2 separate regions of the Homo sapiens genome follow, and region 2 is linked to region 1. Evidence: fine-mapped expression QTL. Tissue or cell type: left ventricle. Region 1 holds a variant in brackets; the other region holds the start of a gene. All regions are shown on one strand. Distances are from middle to middle.

The links. PIP is the estimated chance that this variant, and not a neighbour inherited with it, causes the effect.
Region 2: it holds the start of ABCB4, and the variant in region 1 is fine-mapped to the expression of ABCB4 in left ventricle (GTEx, PIP 0.96). The same link has a PIP of 0.9 or more in atrial appendage and testis.

Annotation. Positions count from the first base shown.
Region 1 is chr7:87,447,338-87,450,073 of GRCh38, reverse strand. It overlaps ABCB4 (ATP binding cassette subfamily B member 4), which reads left to right. Exons shown (of 28, transcript NM_000443.4): 8 at 1-106. Among named protein-coding and RNA genes, the nearest start is that of ABCB4, 27 kb to the left of the region's middle. The variant T/C (reference allele first, on the strand shown) is at 1,394.
Region 2 is chr7:87,474,336-87,477,096 of GRCh38, reverse strand. ABCB4 (ATP binding cassette subfamily B member 4) reads left to right here and starts at 1,417. Exons shown (of 28, transcript NM_000443.4): 1 at 1,417-1,463; 2 at 1,626-1,711. The coding sequence starts at 1,632. RefSeq lists silencers at 1,041-1,290, 1,341-1,540, 1,551-1,690 and an enhancer at 2,161-2,230.

The DNA.
Region 1 (2,736 bases):
ACAAAGAACTAGCTGCTTATGCAAAAGCAGGCGCCGTGGCAGAAGAGGCTCTGGGGGCCATCAGGACTGTGATAGCTTTCGGGGGCCAGAACAAAGAGCTGGAAAGGTCAGGAAGGTTCTTTAGCCACTGGTTTAAGGAATGTGTTTTTACATTTTGTTGCTTCTTCTTTGTGGTATGTGTTTTTTACCTTCCCTTTCCTAATATTAACCCTTCTCGCATAAATTATAAGCACCCTTTACTGATGGCTATAGTTGAATGTCAGACTCTAAAGCAAGATTCTTAATCATTTATGTTCCATGGACTCTTTTGGCTATGTGATAATACAAATGGACTCCCTTGTTTTTAAATGCATAAACCAAAATATGCTAGCCCTTTGGGAAGCCAAGGCAGGAGGGTAGCTGGAATCCAGGAGCTCAAGACCAGCCTGGGCAATGTAGTAAGACCCTGGCTCTACAATTTTTTTTTTTTTTAATAAGCTGAGTGTGGTGGTGTGCACCTGTGGTCCCAGCTACTCAGGAGGCTGAGGCAGGAGAATCCCTTGAGCCCAGAATGTCAAGGGTGCAGTGAGCTGAACTCCAGCCTGGATGATAGAGTGAGCCTCTATCACAAAAAAAGAGTAAAAATTTTTTAAAAACCAAAAAATAAATAAATAAAAGCCCCAAAAAACAAAATAAGTAGGGTTACAAAGGAAAATAATTATATTAAAAATACTTATCAAAATATTTTTTATTTTATTTTACTCCTTAATGACTATGAACTGGAATATAGAAGAGAAAAACCTGAGAAAACATCGACTTCCTAGTTATAGCCCAGAATTCTTTGTAGGGCCTTGTGGGTCCTCCATAACAATGAGGCAGGGCTTCCCACCCAGGCCTCTGGCATTCAACTTTAATGATCCAGGATAAGCCTGGAAAATTGACCAGTATCTGGAGGCATGTTGCAAACTCTTCTCTGAAAAAATTATCAAGGCATGATTGACATATGAAAAGCTGTGTATACATCTTTAGTGTGTATATCTCAATGAGTTTGGGGATAAGAATACACCTATGAAAAAGGCTATTCTGCTCTACTTAAATGAAAATAATTACTTAGGGTTTTATTTAAATAACAATATCCCCTACTGTAGTTGAAGTATGATTCCATATAAAGTATTTTCTTTGGCTATTCTATGGGACTCTTGATACTCACAACTCTTGGATATAAAAATTCTCTGGAAATTCTCTAGCATTAAAAACAAAGTTTCCCTTATTCCCCCCATTTAATTTTCTACTTTTCTATTCCTTAATCCCTCTTCAAAGCCAACATGTTTCTGATCCTCTAACCTCTTCCTTTTTTCTCTCTCACTGCTGCTTCCTGTACATAATAGTCCACACAGACCACACTAACCCTCAG[T/C]TGGACCTCAGGATGTCAGTGTAATCTGTGCCGCTCCATTAGCCCCGGTAAGCGAGCCACCTAAGCAAAGGTAATTACAGTGTGTCCGCTGCTGTCACTGGAGCTGTGTGTCACACTGGGCAGATGCAAGTCTTCCTGCCACGCCTTGAGGCTCAGCCACACAGGAGAAATCACAGCGCTAGCTGTGGCCTGCTGGCTACCCCCAGAGATGCAGCTGTGCTCTATGAATGCAGCCCCCAACCAGAGGAAAGCACCCTGAAGACCTGGGTGCTTTACGCAATAAAAAAGACAAACCTTCTGATGGCAGAATATGTTTTTTAAAAGACTAATGAATTCTCATGTTTTATTTGGTTCAACACTAAAACTGGTGTTGCTGTGTTTTGTTTTTTGTTTTTTTTTGTCACAAAGAAAAATATCCTAGTTTGTGTGATATTTTCCCCTCGAAGTGTCATTGCATACCCATTGGATTTTTCTTTAAATTTCAGGGAGCCCAAATTAAATTTTACATACCCTCTGGGTCTAGTATGAAAAAGTAGATTTGATTTAACTTGATGAAAAAAAATTGTAATTTAACAGAATCATTCTAGATATTTTAAACTTTATATCAAATGCCAGCAGCCAGTAATAATGCATTTGAATTATGATTCAAAGATATGATAGTAATAGAATGAGCAAAACTCAGGAAGAGATAAAAGTTGAACACAATGATACTAATATAATAGTAAGAGAAATGATCAGGCTTGCTAACTATGAACCAGCTACTGTACTACTTTCTACAATTATCTACCAACCTCACAATTATCTTGCAAATTAGGCATTATTAAATCCATTTTTCATATATGAAACTAAAGTCTGGAAAAATTGAATAAGAACTCATATTCCATAAGTAGTGACTACCTTATAACCTGTATCTAGCTTGACAGATGAAGGTCAGCCTGATTTTTAAAAAAGTCAAAGAGAGAAGCCTATGTTTATGTACAACAACATGTAAAATTTTCATCCCTCACCCAGTGGACAATAGAGGGACGATTTTCTTTTCTCCAGAGAAGAGACATTGACCAGAGTTAAGAATCTAACTGTTTATGAGTTCCAGTGACATTTACAATCAATTCTGGTTTGGCTTGGTTTCTCTCATTCCCTCTTAACCCTGACTTGTGATATTGCCGTGAAGGTGATGGAGAAGCTCTTCCATATCCCAGGGTGAGCCCTCAATTCTGGAATAACCACAGGAATGTTGGTTGGCTTGGAATGGATGAAGGGAAATGGAACCGGGCCAGTAAAGAGAAGGCTTGGATCTGTTCTAGGCCTGGCTGATCCTGAATTAGTTCAATTCCCAAAGATCT
Region 2 (2,761 bases), 27 kb before region 1:
TTTACACACAGTATCCCTAATCCTAATAACACCCTTATTTTATAGATCCAATGACTGAGTCAAGAATTACATAACCTGGCCAGACAGCTGGTACATGGGAAAGGTGAGATTCACACCAGGGTCCACCCAGCATCTCTACTTATACCATGCTCTGCTTTAAGGTTCTCTGAGAACTCAGACAAGCCTTGGGCTAACAATTGTGTTAACAGGACATAGCAGGTGCAAGGACCCACTGGTCATCCTGCTACCTGATCAGAAGGAAGGAAAGTTGTATTTGTTGCTCACCTACTATGTTTTAGGCATAGTACTAGGTGCTTTTACCTAGTACTTAATTCCCTTATCCTCAACTCATTTATTCCTCGCAATAACCTGATAAGGGAGATGTTTTTATCCTCATTTTACATATAAGGAAACAGGCCTAGAGAAATGAGCACAGTGTCCAAAGTCACATAGTTAATAAGATGTGAAGCTCTGAGTTTGAAAGTCTCCGGTTTCAAAGCCATGAAACTTATGGCTCCCCGTTTTAGACACTTCCTTTTGGGAAGAGTGTGGAGGAATTAATCAGAAAGAAGAAAGTCATACTCAAATAGGTGGTAGGAGCAGAGACAATTCAATACAGACAGAAGTCTTAGATGAGAGCAGTGAGCCAGGGCACTGGACTGGGACTCAGGAGGCTTCCCCTAGACTCTGGTTCCACCGATGCAGCCTCAGGCAGGACTTCACCTCTCTGGGCATCCGTTTCTTCATATGTTAAACATACGGGGTTTTAATTAGATGATCGCTGAAGACCCCTCTAGCCCTAAAACTCTGTGTCTCTTAAGTGCTAAGAGGGCACCAACAGCGTTCCTCCTCCCCAAGGAGCATAATGTGATGGTTCCTGCCGGCCCTGGCTGACTCTCGCCGTCCTTGGAGATAATTGGGTTCAGTGCCACCTGGACCAGAACTGGGGATGCGGAAGCAAGAGGCGAGTCTATTGCTCTCTCTCGGTCCTGGGCCGCCCTGTGATTGTTGGGCGTCCGGAAACTGTCTCCCCTATGGGTTTAAAAACAAAACTGAGCGCCCATGGGGTGTGACAGTCATCTGCAGGGGCTTGGGTGGCCCATCAGGCGAGGCTTTCTCGGCACCCGAGGCTCCAGCCTGATCTCGGTCTTATCCTGCGACCGGGCTGGTTCTGGCGGGTCGCCAGGGTGGGCGGCGGCCCCAGCCGGGCGCCCCGGCGGCAAGAGCGGCAGGCTGCGCCCCTGGCCCGCGCCTAGCCTGGGGAGAGAGCTGGGCGGGCGGCGGGAGCTGCTCTCGCGGGCCGCGGCCCTCGCCCTGGCTGCAACGGTAGGCGTTTCCCGGGCCGGACGCGCGTGGGGGGCGGGGGCGGGGGCGGGGGCGAGGCCGCGGCGAGCAAAGTCCAGGCCCCTCTGCTGCAGCGCCCGCGCGTCCAGAGGCCCTGCCAGACACGCGCGAGGTTCGAGGTGAGAGAGGTCCGGGCGCGTCTGGCCTCGAAGGGAGACCCGGGACGTGGGGCGCGGGGCGGGAGTGGCCGGACCTCCACCCAGTGCCCCCGGGCCCCGCGACTCGTGCGCCGGGCCGCCGGAGAGGGTGTACTTGGTTCTGAGGCTGTGGTTTCTCCTCAGGCTGAGATGGATCTTGAGGCGGCAAAGAACGGAACAGCCTGGCGCCCCACGAGCGCGGAGGGCGACTTTGAACTGGGCATCAGCAGGTACATCCCCAGCAGCCACTGGCTTTTCCGTTACACGCCAATCAGCAGGACTAAGTTCACCCTTGGAAAGAAGTTGTAAAAATCGGTTGATGCCTTTGAAGACCTTTGTTTTGGAGGCTTCTTTGAAGGGTCTTGCATCCGGTTCTGACCTTGGAGCAAACGTGTTGTGTGGCCTCAAAGAATGTCACTGAGGCTCCTTTTGGAACAGATTCAGGAAGAAAAGGCTGTCTTGAAAAGTGCTCCCTTCCCTTTGTGCAGGGGGGATTCAATGAATATCTGCATTGTATAACATTCATTGTATTACGTAACTCTTGAAACTTTTACAAATGACTTTCATATACATCATCTGATTGTTCAGACTTAAAGGGTGTCAGACATCTGCTGTTGATGGCTGTGCTTTTTGAACAAGGGCAGTGAAGCAAAAACTCCCTCCCCTCCTGCCCATCCCCTGTTATGTCTCTTCCTCCTTGTCTTACCCCTCCCCCTCCTCTCATCGCCAGGCTTATTTGTATTTCTCCTTTCTGGGAGGATAGGTGGGGAGGGGGAACTTCTGTACATCCGAATCAGTTTTGTTCAAGTGGTAGGGGGAAGCAGCGCTTCCTTTGCCTTCATGTCTTTCTCGGTTCCCCTGGCCCTTGTTAAACTCACTTCACAGGCTTTATGAGCGGGGCAGAAGTTCCCAGTCAATGGCGTGTGTCTTTGTTTCCTCTTTCACTGTGGGAATAGTGAATCATTTTCGCCTTTAGCCTGAAATAGTTTATGAGGCTATTACGGTCTCTGAGTTCATACCAGGCTACCCAGAAAAAATTGACCTGTGTCAAGTGATCACCCAGAGGGACAAATTTATCAGTCTCTGTAGTTTGTCCTCAAGCTGCTAGGGGCTTGATTAGCTAACTGAAAACATGCCTACCTGATGCTTAAACTGAAGCATTATTTTAGCCTGTTAATGTGGTTGTGCAGTAACCTTGCTGTATTTCTTCTAAGCACCATTGTATTTTTTCATAGAAAATTTAGTTTTGCCATGTAGAATTGAAAAAGTGATAGATGGTG